2 separate regions of the Homo sapiens genome follow, and region 1 is linked to region 2. Evidence: fine-mapped expression QTL. Tissue or cell type: thyroid. Region 2 holds a variant in brackets; the other region holds the start of a gene. All regions are shown on one strand. Distances are from middle to middle.

Evidence for each region. PIP is the estimated chance that this variant, and not a neighbour inherited with it, causes the effect.
Region 1: it holds the start of SAMD12, and the variant in region 2 is fine-mapped to the expression of SAMD12 in thyroid (GTEx, PIP 0.99).

The regions. Positions count from the first base shown.
Region 1 is chr8:118,618,480-118,626,587 of GRCh38, reverse strand. It overlaps SAMD12 (sterile alpha motif domain containing 12), which reads left to right and starts at 4,625. Exons shown (of 4, transcript NM_207506.3): 1 at 4,625-4,784. The coding sequence starts at 4,772. SAMD12-AS1 (SAMD12 antisense RNA 1) reads right to left here and starts at 5,587. Exons shown (of 5, transcript NR_038210.1): 1 at 5,402-5,587; 2 at 4,933-5,053. RefSeq lists a silencer at 4,283-4,432 and enhancers at 4,533-4,732, 5,343-5,552, 5,583-5,632.
Region 2 is chr8:118,237,487-118,245,595 of GRCh38, reverse strand. It overlaps a transcript of SAMD12 not described here. Among named protein-coding and RNA genes, the nearest start is that of EXT1, 130 kb to the right of the region's middle. The variant T/C (reference allele first, on the strand shown) is at 4,283.

The DNA.
Region 1 (8,108 bases), 380 kb before region 2:
GTGGCTTAACTACAAGTCGGACTGGGCAGACTTACTCCACACTTGGCAAATATCCTGAGGCCCTTGCTACTGCTTAACTGAATTATATCCATGTTCTTTGGGAATGGCCTCTCAGGCTTCCATGGATGATCAAAAGAGCAAACACTTATTGGGCATCCATTATGTGCCAGGACAGCGCACAACACTATAGATACTCTCTCAGTCACTGCTGAGCCCCAAACTGTGAGCTAGGTAATGTATACATTACACAATTAATAGCATTACAATACATGTGGGAAAACCAAGGCACAGAAATGTCAAAGAACTTTGCTAATAACCAACATCGAGTAAATGAGAGTCAGGATTACAATCTAGTTCTGTATGTCTACGAAACTTGAGTACTGAAGCCAAATATTCAGATAACCAGTTAATATAAAGGTAGACAGATTCTGCTCAAATTTTGAAGACATAATTTAAGTCTGATTTTGAAAGTATAGTTTAGACGAACGATGGTATAGAATATCACCAACTTATCAACAAACAGATAACACACAATGCGATTTAATTATGCACAATGTGATTTAAGCAAAAACAACTAGGCTTTTGCTTAAATCATGTTCCCTGAAATATGCTTACTTCCTCCAATGGAAGCCTGATATAACTTGAATGGTTGGCACTTTATTCATGACTCAAGGATTAGAGTTAGTATTTTTTATCTTAATTACAAAAAAATTATTTTTTTCCTCTCAGTTCCTCCTGTCAAAAATTTTACTTTTTAGGGTTTGAATCCTTTTGGTTAGGTTTAGAAGATCTCCCTGAACAGAATAGAAACATAATCTATTTACTTTTTGAGATTTATGAATGTTTTCTGTAGAGGCTTGTGAATATAGCAACCGAGTTAGAACAATAAATACAGTAAAGTACTTATATGTACTATTTTAAATCTTAGAATCCAGTGAAATCTGTAGCCTCATCTCAATATTTCTTTTTTTATTTAATTCACTATAAGGTAATGGGCTTTTCCTTCCCTTTCTGTGCTCTCTGATATATTCAGAAATTTTTGAATCATTCTAAATATCACAATTTCTGATATTAAAATATTTTAAACCCTTCATTTTATTAGTAATGACAATTCCTATTTGGCCAAGTGCTTATGAATTCAGATTTGTGATCACGTAATCAGTATTGAAATCTAGATGGAGTAACATCACAGAGTTCTACACTTAGGTAGACCTCAATCCCCTTGCTACAATTCATGTTTTGGAGACATGGGGCAAATTACTTAAATTCACTGAGCTTCAATTTCCTCATCTGGAAAATAGTGATATCTGACAATATTGTAGTGATTAAAGGAGATGATGTATGTCAAGATGCTTAGACAGAGCTTGGCACTTGTAATTTCCCAACAAATGCTACTTATAACAAGGATAAAAAAATAGTAGTAATAAATTATCTATTGAGTACTTACTATGTAACCACAATTATGACCAAGAATCTGGAAGATATGAAGCATAAGACTCAGTTCCAGCACTCGAAGTGCTTATATACTATAAGGAACAAACAATAGCATCATAATGAACACAGAATTTGGCTTATGAGAGGTATGGGATGAGGTCTGGACTTTGCCCCTTGCTAAAATTGGGTATATCTGTTAGGAACTGTACTTGGCTGCTGATAAAAAAGACCAAAAATAAGTCATGATTGCAGTCTGTGAAAGATACTAAAGCAGAAGCTAAGCTGTGCCCAAATTACTGAGCCACAGAAACTGAAGTAATACATGGGTATTGTTGTAAACCACTAAATATTGGGATAATTTGTTAACAGCAATCGATTAATACATGTGGCTCATCATGTTGTTGTATACAATTGTAATTCCTTCATTTGCATTACTTTATAGGAGGGTTTGGAAAGCTTTTTTTCTGCAAAGGATCAGGTAGGAAATATTTGAGGCTTTGTAGGACAAGAGGCAAAATTGAGGATATTATGTAAGTATGTCTTTATAATTTCCAGGCTTTGCAAATTATACTTTTTTTGTTTTTTTTCCAACCATTTAAAAATGTAAAAATCACACCTAGCTGGTGAGTTATAAGAAATAAATGGTGAGCCATATTTGGCTCATTGGTCTTAGTTTGTTGACCCCTGCTATATGGAATTATTTGGTTATACCACAGTTCATCTCTCCAATCTGTGTTGATAAATATTTGAGTTGTTTTCCATTTGGGAACATTAAAATAATGCAGCCACAAACATTCTTGCACATGTCTTTTGGAGAACATCTGTATGCATATTTGTTTGGTGTAAACCTAGGAGTAGAACTTCTGGGTCACAGGATAAGCATATATTCAGCTGAATATTTCAGATGGTTTTCCAAAGTGGTTTTGTGAATTTGCACACCACCAGCAATATATAAATCTTTATTGCTTCACAATCTTGCCAACGGTTGGTATTTTGTGTCTTTATCTTTCAAACATTCTAGAGATAAATGTAATTTTTTTTTAGTACTTCCCAGGTGATTCTAATGTTCAGCCAGAATTGAAAACCTCTGCGCAACTATTGTTTATCCCTTATTAGGCAGAACCACATGAAATTGTTCTATTTGTAGGTTTTAAAAATGGTCAAACATTGGCTATTTCATATGGTAGAAACTAACATCTCCTTCACATTTTATTTATACTAAAAATAAAACTCGTCTAGAATGCACATCACTGGGAAAAATATTAAAGATGAGCTAAGATGAAGTTTTAAAATTAACCACAGATTTCAATGACTTTTATATTTTTATATCACCCAGATATTTAAAAGCTTGGAACCAGACCAATGGTTTTCACCCTCAATGAAGACTGGAATCACCTGTGGGTTTTTAAAACCTGAGTGCCTCTACCCAAACCCCCATAAGCTCTGATTCTGTGAGACTAAGATAAAAGCTTAGGAATATATATTTGTAGAAGGCTGATGCACAGCCAAGGTTGAGAACCATTGATACTACCTGTCCTATGGCTTTCTTTCACATTCATTCAATCTCAGAAAATACTTAACACTTTGGTGATTTTATATACATAAAGTAGTGAAGCACCTGGATTTCAGTTCTTTCCAGAGTTTAGAATGCTTGGCTGTGTATTAGGTCGGAAAATTCTTTTTCCCATGGAAATTATGTCTCACTGAATGGGTCTCTCTCTACTGTACCTAAAAGAGAGGCTTAGGTTTGACTTGTACACAGCTCCATGGACTCAGAATTAAAGTATCAACAAGAGCATTTAATGGTTACACGCAGGTATTTTTTAAAGTACCTATACACATATTATTATTATATATTACCCAGTAGGGGAACTAAGCATGTAATTAGTGACCAGAACAACAGGTGTGCATGTATACACTGAGAAACGAAATTGTTTTGAAAAACATTTTTTTTTTTTTGCTGATGACCAAGACACACAAAAATGTCTAAGTAGTCATCATGGGAAGAATCCGATTTTTGTACTTCCTCATTTTACAGAGATTAACATTATATATGAGTGACTGGGTGGATGTGGTACCAAATACATTTGTAAACTGAAGGCCTTTAAAAGTCAATCCAGTCTTGAGCCAGATTTATTCCCGAGGCTATTCCCTTACCCCTTCCAGCCACAACTGTATCCGTATTTTCACACGCAGGAAAAAATGTTTAGAAACTTAATTTTTACGAGCTGTCGAATTGTATTGCTATCCACGTGATTCCCATTATCATGTCTGCTTATAGCATCCCCAGCACCTACAGCTAGGACATAGGTTCAGAAGTTGAAGGAACCTGATTCTCAGGCACTGTTAATTATTAGGCCCTATCACAGGCTGTCAACAGGCTCCAAGTCTAGGCAAATTGAAAGCCTCCTATCCTGGAAGCCAGACAGGCTTTCATCTGACCTCCTCCGGTGCAATCCTGGCTCCCAGACTTTGTTCCTAACAACCCCTTGGGGACGTTGCCTATTGGGGTTTAAGCCACTCCTCCTCCCCTACACCCCCATGCCAAGTATTTAGCCACCTGAACCACCCTGTAGGATAAGACAACTGTATCAACCGTCGGAATTCCCCCACAAAACCCATACATCTCAGGGTGCGAAGGAACAAGTTTCAACCTCACCCTGGGCAGCGTTCTCTGGCCCAGGTGGAGAACCACACAGGAGGACAGTGGTCCTGCTCTCCCTACTAAATGGTGGTTCAGGAGGCCAGGGGGCGGGGCGGTACCGGCGGCAGAGGCCCACGGACGAGCTCGCAGGAGCTCATCACACAGCTGACCGTCACCTGCCCACCTCACCACACCTGCTAGGTGCCAAACCCCTTGTAATGGACAGGGAAGGGCTCAATCACGGGTCCCTACTCTTAGCAGCGAACCTATCTCAGCGCACGGCCTCCTGGGAGATGTAGTCCAGACCGCTTCCCGGGAACCCCCCCCCCCTCCCCCCCCGCCCCGCCACAACCAGGCATCCCTGGTCCCCTCACAACTTCCCCAGGAGAGATTGCTCGGCCTGGCCAGCTGAAGCTGGAGTTGCTCTCCAAGTGTCGGGGCCAGGCGGCACTCCGCGGAGGAGTCGGGGTGCTCTCCCCAGTCCGAGCGAAGGGAGGGAACTACACTTCCCAGGACGCCCTGCGCGCGCCGAGCCGGGAGCCGGCTGCCTCGCTTTGCGTGACCGCGGCAGGTTGGTCCTGGAGCAGATAAGCGCAGAATATTTAGGCGAAAGCGAGAGGAAGGGGGGAGCGCGGGGCAGGAGGAGTACCTCGGCCAAGAAAATTATGCATGCGTTAGGGAAGCTCTGAGAGAATGGCTGTGGAAGGTAAGGGACGCTTGGGGCATTTTTAAGCTCCCTCTTAACCCGCGCACCCCAAGGCACACATCCCCGATGAAGCTTGGCGATCGTGGGGAGGCGAGGAAAGGGGGTGGCGGAGAGCGGGCCCCTTCCTCCTCCACCTCTTGGCACTCACCTGCGCCGCCAAGGCCAGTAGGCGCTTTAATTCAGTTGCTTTGGAGAGACGTGAAGGGTAGGTGCGTAGGACTTTGAGGTAGGAGGTGTGGAGACGAGTGTCCCTGATGCGAAACGATATCCTGGAAATGGGGGGAAAGCCGGAGGATCCGGCATGAGGTTTTGGCCCCGAGATGCCCTTTTTCCCTGCCCCCTCCCTCCGGAGCAGGCTGGGTGGCCCCGGGGCTGGGGATGCTTGGTTGGCCCCCCTCACGTGGGAGAGGTCCCCAGCCCAGGTGCGTCATCCGGAAGCTTGGACTGGGATTGGGTCGAGGGCCCTTCGTCCTATGCACCCAGCAGCGGCGGCCGCAGATGTACCCAGAGGGTAGAGGTGTCCCTACACCTGTCTCTGCTTATACAGCCAGCGCCCCGGGCTTAGCAAAGTTTACAGACATGAAATGTAATCAGCCAGGGAAAAGAAGTGCAACAACCTCTTCGATTTGGGTGAATCCTTTTCTTTGAAGATCACTTTCTTCTTACAGTCTTGAGCTTCGGCTTTGCAGTTTTGACCGTAAAGTCCTGCCTCCCTTGAACTTCCTGGTTGAAAGCAGGGTCAGGCTGTTCGTGAGGGATCCTGAGTTTTTCATTTCAGGTTATCTTACCTTGGAACACAAACTTCCTTGTTTAGGTAGTTTCTGAAGAAGAAAAAAAAACTGTGGACCGGAAGGGTTTGTGATGTCACATTAGAGGTCAAGCTGTGCCTGAATGATGAAATGATTGTGGGACGAAATGGGAGCCTACATTCACCTGCAGAATTTTGGTTTCTGAGTGCAGTCAGGTCAGAGGGCGTACTGAAGTAGGAAGAGGAGGGCTTGCCTGCCAGCTGCTTCAGGCGCCTTGCCAAGGGGAAATCAGCCTATTCCTTGTAGGCTAGAGACGAGAAGGCCACGAGGCTGGCTTGCTGCTCCCTCTCCTCCCTGCCCCAGGAGAAAGAAATTGAACTAATCTGACTCTTGCTCCCCTTATAACGACTGTCTTAACAACCTGAAGTAGCAACAACCCAGCTCCTATACTCAGCACCCATAAACTCGGGAAACTCTTGCCTTTGGGCTATCTCAGGTTCAGAGATCCACAGCCAGCCACTTCCAGCTTTCCTAACTTTATTAACAAAAATGAAATCCTCTCTCTCTCTTACAATCAAGATTTTTCTAGGTTTTCTTTTCTGTGCAAATGTACCAGTAGGGTGAGAATCTTTTTTTTTTTTTTTTTTTTTTTTTTGCATCGTTATGCTTGATAGTCAAGACTTCAGATGCCAAAGAACAAAACAAAAGCCGAGATAAAGTTCATCTTGAGCTTGAGACCAAGGATATGTTGACCTACTCCTTAAGTGTCCGTTCTATGTCACCCATCAGGTGACACTGATTATGATCTCTCGTCTTCACCACTCCTGTGTCCCCAAGACAGGGACACTCCTCTTTGTTGCTAGTCCACACTGTTCTCGAAAACAATTTCTTGTTCCCTGTAAGAAGTATAAATTTGTCTTATTTCTTGCGTGATGGGTGATTACACCAGTGAAGCCAGACTTTACAAAAACAAGAACTTAGGAAGGAAGTACATGTGGACTATGGAGAGTTTATTTTCTAGTGACTTGGTTAAAGTACCTGTCTAGTAAACAGGAGATCCTGAGTTTGAATCACAATGAGGTCTCAAAGAATGAAGGAAGTATTTTAAACTTTAACTTCAAATATGATTCCTATCTTTGGTCTTTGCAAAGATATCAGCCTGGACCAGTCCCTTCCTGGTTACTCCTACTTGGTCTTTCAAGCCTTTGGGAAAATGTCACTTCCTCTGGGAAACTGTCCCAGCCCTCCTTTTTCTTCTGCCTTCTCAGCACTCTTTCCAGTCTATGGGAAGTGCCTCCTGCTCACATTTATCTTAATACTTATCATACTTAATCTGCCTCTTACTAGACTCTAACCCCCTTGGGGGTTAGACTTGGACTTTATATTCCTAGCTCATAGCACAGTACTTTGCCCATAATAGGTACTCAATGCTCATGAATTGCATGGCAAATATATTCATGGAGGTTTTGTAACTGGTTCTATAAGGGTACATGGGGCTTTCTTGGAAGCCTAAATGTGATACAATAAGGGATTTCTGACAGATTTGAGGATGGGAGATTTTTTTTTTTTTTTTTTTGAGACAGAGTCTTGCTCTGTCGCCCAGGCTAGAGTACAGTGGCGCGGTCTCAGCTCACTGCAAGCTCCGCCTCCCAGGTTCACGCCATTCTCCTGCCTCAGCCTCCCAAGTAGCTGGGACTATAGGCACCCGCCACCATGCCTGGCTAATTTTTTTGGTATTTTTAGTAGAGACGGAGTTTCACCATGTTAGCCAGGATGGTCTCGATCTCCTGACCTCGTGATCTGCCCACCTCGAAGTGCCCTTCTCTTCAGTCTTTTGTCTTGATGCCCAAAAAATCTTTTAGAACAGTTTACCTCTACTGCTGGGTGACATTGTCCCTGGACACATTTGGGATATGTAGGAACTGCTGCTGGGGGCTGCTGTTGGTATTTTGTGCCCATGGCCACAGATAATAAATGTCCTGCAGCGCATGGCCATCCCGTATAACGAGGCCAAGCCATGGCCAAGTAATGATCAGTTTACCCAACTTATTGAGAAATGCTGCTTCAGAGAATAAGGAGTTTTGCCAGAGGAACTGGAATAGAAAATACAGTTCGAATTGCTTAACATTCTAAGCTTTAGTCTCCACATCTGGAAAAAATGGGCTCACTACTGCTTTCCTCCTGGGAACATTGTGAGGATTTTTTTTTTTTTTTTTGAGACGGAGTCTTGCTCTGTCGCCCAGGCTGGAATGCAGTGGCGCGATCTCGGCTCACTGCAAGCTCCGCCTCCCGGGTTCACGCCATTTTCCTGCCTCAGCCTCCCGAGTAGCTGGGCTACAGGTGCCTGCTACCACGCCCGGCTGATTTTTTTGTACTTTTAGTAGAGACAGAGTTTCACCATGTTAGCCAGGATGGTCTCCATCTCCTAACCTCGTGATCCGCCCGCCTCGGCCTCCCAAAGTGCTGGGATTACAGGAGTGAGCCACCGTGCCCTGCTCATTGTGAGGATTAAATAAAGGAGAGGGCTTCTAGAAGGGTGTCTGGAACCTGCATCCTAAGTAAATATCACTTGTAC
Region 2 (8,109 bases):
GTCAAATTCTGGTACCACTACTTCTTCACTCTATGAAATGTTGCCCAAATGATTTAATCTCTCTGAGCTCAGATTCCTCCTGTATAAACGGGAATAATAATCTCCACCTCCCAGGGTTATAAGAGTTACATAAAATGAACCGTGTAACGTGGCTGGGACAGTTTATGGCCAAATTGTTACACTCCCTTCCTCCCCTTGCGGCATCCAGACTATATTACCGGTAGGCCTAATGTTTTTGGTTCCATAATTCCCATCTTCAGGTGATCTAGGCTGTTGAATAAGTTCACTGTTGCTGGAGAAGCTCTTCTGAAAACTGCTCTGACCTCAGTGTCTAATCACAGAAACTCGAGGCTTCTTAGTAAACTTTGATATCTTGTCTCCAAAAAACATAATTATCTGCCTACCTTGGCATGCCCTGGTTTTGTTTGCCTGGTGAAGCAGAAAATAAATGGCTTGCCAGCGGTGGTCATGATGAAGACCTAGATATTAAATAAGATGGGTGTGAAAGTCAGGATTGCTGTGGATTCAAAGAAGCCTTAAGTATTCTCAGAGTTCCCTTAACTCTGGGCTTCCACACATGCTGCCTCTGTGATATAAAACTCACCCTCCTCTCCTATTTCCAAAAATAAACCCTATTGAGAATGTGTGCCAGGAAGAGAAGTTGTCTGTAGACCTTCAGATTTATCCTTGGACATCCCTGTTTATAAAACCCTACACAGGGCTAGTGTCTGGTATTCCTTCAGATATTTATGCCTTCTTTTGGTTTCTCTCTATAAATTCTCCTTCTCCTTTCCTAGTTTTCGCTCTACTTTCCTTCTGGGCACAAAACAAAATTCCTCTTACTATCTCACTCAGGGCATTTTATCATCAACTTTTATGGTTTTGAGCACTAGTCCTCATTCTACCCTGTAGAGCTCATCACAAAATTTTATCCAACAAAGATGGTTCCCTCTTTCAGAGGAATTTTAATTTTAGCTACGATAATCATTATTAACAACATATGTATTTCATCTATCAATGTGATTAGATTTTATTCCTTGTGAAAAAAAATTACAGAAAGGGCCACACCATGGAAAGGACTGCAAATGTTTCAAAATCCCAGTGATTAAAAAAGCCAATGGCATTATTTGACACCTGAATGGAAGAAGACAGATATATAAGTGTTCCTTGCAAATGGATTTCTAGCAGGGGAAAAGAGATCTGGCAGTTCCTAGAGACAATGGTCTTTAGCCACCCACTAAGACTAGGTTCTGAAGCCAGGCTGGATTAAATCTTCAATCTGCTCCTTACTAACTGTGTGAATTTGGGCAAATTTTTAAACTGTCTGTGCTTTAATTTTCTAACCTGCTAATATTGATAACAAGAATACCCATCTCAAAGGGTTTTTTGGAAAGTTAAATGAATTAGCACCTTTATATATGCGCAGTATGTACTCCAACAATGGCTGCTGGTTGAAGTAAATCAGGGATCAAAAAGTCATGATGTGGTCATGATGAAGACCTGTATAAGATGGATGTGAAAGTCAGAATTGCTGTGGATTCTAAGAACCCTTAGGTATTATTCTCAGGGTTCCCTTAACTCTGAGATATAAAACTCGGCTTCATCTCTTATTTCCAGAAATAAACCTTGCTGAAACTGTGTGCCAGGGAAGAGAAGTTGTGCATCTTGTGGGAGCCAATGAAAGAAAATCATTGTCCCAATGTGCCATTTTCTCTCTCTTCATGCAGATTTCTTTCTTTTGGTAAATACAACTGCCAAAAGCTCAGCTCTTTAAAGTTTTACACCTCTCCATTTCCATGAGAAGAACAACCAGAAGACTTGTGTCATCTTTCAGGGACATAATCCTTCAAAGTTTCACACTCTGGGTATGTGTGCAGATTACTGAGACAGGAAAACATGACATATATCTCCAGGATTTTTAAGTAATTTTATATGAAGTTGTTTCCTTCATATAAATGGAATGCAGATCCACTGTAGAAAGTCTAGAATATGCAGATAATAAGCAAAAGAAGAAAATAACAGTTATATCCCGTGCCAGCACCCAGAAATAACAACTGTTAATATTTCATTGCAAATGCCTTTGATCTTTCAAGTGTATATGTGCACCTGAGTATATAGTTTTTTTTAAAAAAAATGGAGTGGTACAGTGCATGCAGGTTATCTTTTTGCATCTCAGGTGCACAGAGTTGAGTTAGCAGTGCTACTTGATTCATGGCATACCATTTTTTCGGCTCTTTCAAGGGACTCTTGTGGATTTTTCCCCTCCTTGTTTTCAAATTTCACATCTGTTCCCTACCCACTAATGCAAAAATGCCAATACATTTGATATATTTTTAATATATACTATTGAGTGTGGATATATATGCAATCCATACAAATGATATTGTGCTCTAAGACCTCATCGTTTTTCATTTTTATTCAACACTGCTTCTGAAATCTAACCATGTTACTATGTGTACATCTAGCTCAAGGTTCTATTTGATGCCTAGCATTCCATCACATTTTACTTACCTACTACCCTAGTCAAATACATGTGGGTTGCCTCATATAAATAACTGGGAAGAATTTATCTGCTTTAGACCAAAGATGGAGCTTCCTGGATCATAGAGCAGGTGAGGGCCTCCTTTCACTCCATGTTGCCAGATTGTAGCCCAGATGGGGAAACCATTGTCTACTCTCTGCAGAGTGCATGGCATTATCCAGATTTCTAATTTTGGCCAATCTGATGGATGTAAAGTTGTATCTGACTGTTTTAATGTGCATTTTCTGATAATCAGGGACTTTGAGCATAGTTTCATACTCCTTAGCCAGTTACATTTCTCATTTTGAGAGAAACCTGTTTAAATCCTTAGATTTGGAGGCAGGAGTGGGGATGTGGCAGGGGCAGGGAAGGTGGTCATGCCTTTTTTTTCTGTTTATAGCAGTCCTCACTTGTCTGTGGGAGATATGTTCCAAGACCCCCCAGTGGAGGCCTGAAACCACAGAGAATATCAAACCCTATGTTTGTTCCTCAGAATACCTACCTATAATAAAGTTAATTTATAAGTTTAGCATAGTAAAAGATTAACAACAACTAATATAATAGGACAATTATAGCAATATACTATAATAAAAGTAATGTGAATCTCTCTCTCTCTCTGAAAATATCTTATTTTACTGTACCTACTGTACCAAGGATAACTGCAACCATGGAAAACAAGGCCTCAGATAATGGGAGACTAACTACTGGTATTTGTCTGATTTTCTTGTGATTCAAGATACCTACTTTAAGGTTTTCTGGCCTATATTTTGACAATCTGTCATCTTTGTGTTAACTTTCTTTCTTCAGTTCCTTTGCCAAATGTAAATTCTTAATTTCTCTTTTATCCATACAGTTTTATTATTTACACTTATGGGGCCAAGCCTGTAATTCCAGAACTTTGGGAGGCCAAGGAGGGTGGATCACTTGAGCATAGGAGTTTGAGACTAGCCTGAACAACATGACGAAACACTGTCTCTACAAAAAAATACAGAAGTTAGCCATGGTTTGGTGGCATGTGCCTGGGGTCCCAGCTTCTAGGGAGGCTGAGGTGGGAGGATAACCTGAGCCCAGGGAGGTCAAGGCTTCGGTGAGGCATGATTGTGCCACTGTACTCCAGCTTAGGCAACAGAGTGAGACCCAGTCTCCAAATAAATAAATACACATATTGCATATATCACTCAAATATCATTGTTTTGTTTTGTGTGTTGGAGGAATATTAGTAAAACCTGGTTTATTTATTGCGGAATTTCTTATAACTGGAATGTTTATATACATTGAAGCTATTTAAATTATTTTTAGAGTACTTTGTTGATACCATACCATTTGATTTTTATGAAAACTTTGAAGAGTAGGTGAGCAGGTATCCCCATTTCATGGATGAGGAAACTGATTTGACTTAGATGTCGTGACCTGCCCAGATTCACAGAGCTCATCCGTTGCCACGCCACAACAAACAGGCAAATCCCTTGTCCCCTAGGCCAGCAGTATGCTTATCAAGAGTTGGGATTATTTCCAAAAAGGTATAATCATCTTAAACTTCTCCATGAAAAAGTCACTTACCACTTAAGAAGATAGTCACATCAAAATGTTTGTTTTGATAAGTATGGATTGACTTACTACATTGGTCTAAGAAGTAAGCTCAATGGTCTTAAAAGAGGCAGAGGTGTTAGTGTGCTAAAAGGCAACTCATCTCTCTGAACACTGTTGTGGGAAATAAGTTTTTTTAATGAGTCCTGTTCTGAAAGTGATGAGTACAGATAA[T/C]TTATGGTTTTCAAGGTAAGCCATTTTCTACACCTGCCCTCAGATTACACAGATAGAATGAACCATTGGGCCAAGAAGAACAGAAACTTGAGTATGAAGAATGGGAAGTAAGAAGAAGTTTCTAATCACTCTCGCATCAGGAAATGTCCTCCCGGAAAATGAGTATGTAGTTAACTTTGACCTCGGTGCAGACCATAAAGACAGATGGGAGAGAAATATTGGACTCTGGTCCCTAAAATCAATGAATACTATCCCAGGGATGGCACTAATGAGCTGGGGGTCAGGTGGTTGTTTGTAGGGGAAGGTAAAGCCGAGCTCTTGGCTCCTGCTGGTAAAGGAAAAGGTGATTGAATGATGGGGTGATAGAGGGCTCATTCTTCAGTGTAATCTTAATTACATTACAAAATGCTGTTCATCAGCATTTTGTGGACAAGGAGAAAAAAGCTCAGTCAACTGCTGGTTGACTCTTTAATCTTGGCTTGTCCTTCAGCACCACGGGCAATCTCAAGCAAGACCTGTGTTCTCTGACTGAGCATGCCTCCCTCGTAAAAAAATTCCTTTTGCATAATCCAATTGAGCAACGCTTGTAGTCGGCACTTTAAGAAGAATCAGTATTTTAAATATTTGCCAAATGAGCTCAAAAGATTATAATAACAATAATTATAGCTTCCATTTACTGACTACGTACTAGGTGCCAAGCATTGTGTTTAACAAGCACCATTTCAATTACTCAGGGGGAAAAACCCTAGGGTACAAATACCATTATTACCTCCATTTTGCAGATGAGGAAATTGAGGCTTAGAGATGTGGAATGAGTTGCCCGAGGTTACAAAGCTCATAACTGGCAAAACCAGAATGCAAATCCAGAACTGTCTGACTCCAAAAATGAATTTCTGTATTCTTAAATTTCGTATGAGTTATCCACTGCTGCTTAACAAAGTATTCAAAAATTTAGCCACTTAAAACAACAAACGTTATTATATCTCATGGTTTCTGAGAGTCACAAATCTAGGAGTGGCTTAACTGGGTGTTTCTGATGCAGTCTTTCTTGACGTTGCAGTCAATGTGTCAATCAGGGCTGCAGTCATCTGAAGACTCCACCAGAGCTAGAATATTTGCTTCCAACATCACTCACGTGGCTGTTGGCAAGAAGCGTTAGCTCCTCATCATGTGGGCTTCTCTACAGGGCTGCTGAGTTTCATCTATAAATAAAGATACCCTACAGGGATTTTAATGAGGATCACCTGAGATAACCTATGAGCTAGTGAGAGGTAAGCTGAAGCAGGCTGCACAAATTTTGGATAATATTATTAATGAATTTATTGCCATCTTGCCTAGGATATTCAGGAATATGGAGATATCCCTGACTCTTCCAAAAGAATGACCAAGATCATGCCTAATTACCTCCATGTCCTGGGAAAGCCCCGCTGTAATGGAGATGGCATCTTCTCCAGGGCTCTATAGGGTGGAGAAGATGAAGAAACCTGCACACAGCCCCCATGAAGATTCCAGTGTTGTGGCTGGGAATCTCTGTCTCCCTTTATGTTGGCTACATGAAAAAAGAGTGTTTGCTTACAGAGACCTGGTGGCCATTAGAAGGTGAGCACCCAAACCCTTTGGTATCCTAGCCCACATATCGAGATCCCAACCCTGGATGGGAAGAACAAATGGCCTGGGTAGAAAATAAATCCAAGGCTAGCCTAAGAGCAGAGTATGATGGAAAGTCTTTGGTGTAAGAAAAACCCATCTGTGCTCATATTTGCTGGGAGGAAACTGGTGCCCATTAAGGTTGTGTAACCTGTAGAACAAAATATTTTGTATGTAAAGCAGCTAGAAGAGTGTCTGGCACATAATAGGTACTCAGTAATAGAAGAGTCTTGGTAGTTTTGTTATTATTGTCATCATTCCAACTTCATATGGCTGTTTGAGGATTACTATATGCAATTATTTGTTTAAAATCTTATCGTTCATTAGATTGTAAATTCCATGAGAACAGGAACCTTGTATAGCTGTCCTATTTACTACTATATTCCTAGTGCCTAACAAAGAGAAGATACTCAGCAAATATTACATGTATGAATATATCTAAATGTAGAGCTTTGTATGTACTAGGTGATCCATGGTTGATAATTATCAGCATTATAATCATCACCATACCATTCCCATTACCATTATCATCATCATCATCACCACTACCATCATCCCCATCCTCATGGCATAAGAATACCCTGGTGTGATAATTCAACAGTGTTCTCAGTGTATGACAATGAGACTTAATTTCTTTTCCACTTCAGGTACTTCTGGTTCACAGAAGAATCTGGGTGTTTTCTTTTTTTCCATGGTAAAAAAAGACCTGCTCCACCATATTGGTATAATGTTGTTATGGCTTGAGGAAAAAAACTGTATTCCTAAAAAATCTTAACAAGCCCTGTAATCAGATTCAACGCAAATCTCTTGGAGTGATAGTCCACTGGTGTTGAATCCCATCTTCACTATTTTCTTTGTGGCCTTGGAAGAGTTACCAAACCTGTCTGGATCTTCATGGCCTCATTTCTAAAAGGACAAAAGTAAAAACTAACCAAAATACTGATAAGGCTATTGTAAAGAAATAACAGATGCTTTTTGTCTAATCTCTTGCATGTGTCCTTTCCATGGTAGATGTTCAAAAATATTTATAGAATGAATGTGTTGACTAGATGAATGATATAATTTATGTCTATAGCTTCACTACTCATTCCAACAGCTGAGTCAGCACAAGGAGATAGCCTTTGAAATTCTAGGGAACTCTGAAGGGTTGGAAGATGTAAGTTCCAGGACTCGCTGTGACTTTGGGCAAGTCCTGAGATATGATTCAGGGTCTCAAGGGTCTTATCCACATAATAGGAGGAAATTCCGTTTGCACAACAATGAGAATGCACTTACTGCCACTAAACTGTATGCTTAAAAATGATTACAATGATAAATTTTAATTGATTTTATCACAAAGGAAAATTCTGGCTACTAGAGTACTAGCTTTCTGGATACTAAGACTTGAGACCAAAAATATTGGCTAGCATGTATAATCCCTTACTTATGCCAAACACTGGTAAAATGTCAGATGCATGATCTCACGTAACCCTCTCAGTGGTCCTGTGAGTGAGATATTATTACTACCCCCATTTTATAGATGAGGAAACAGAAGCTTAATGAAGTATTTCTAGAGCTGGAGTTTAAAGCCATGTGTGTCTCTTTAGAGAGCTCTTGTGCTTTCCTACTTAATATTCTGAAGTTCTTTTTGTTTGTTTGTTTGTTTTGTTTTGTTTTTGACAAATAACCAAATCACAAATGTAGGCAGCTCAAATCTTGGTCACATGAGCTTTGATAGAGAAGGTGGTATGGAGACCTGATACAGTTTGAGAAAGGCCTTGTTTGCTTCCATTCTTTGAAGCTCGCAGTGCATTGGAACAGAGGGAGAAAAGGAAGGAGGAGATGGAAGAGAGGCAACAGCAGAAAACAGTGCCAAGATGCAGTTACCAATATATTTCTGAATTTTTTTAATGTTTACATTTGATTCTTATATTTGCATGATTTTAATGACAAAAAATACTTTATTGGGCAAAGACATCTGAAGTCCCAATCAAGGTCCTACAAGATTAGAAAGCCTGAGCTAATGGCTTTCCAGCCTTCTGCCTCCAGCTTCCCACCTTCCAATTCCTCTCATAGTAAGAGGCCCTGGGTGGCATTGTGATATAACCTCAGCTGGCTCTTGGCATTCCCATAGACAGGGCTTCCAGGCTTCTCTTCTTACAGCTGGGGAAAGGAACAGCAAATCCAAGACTCTCATCATA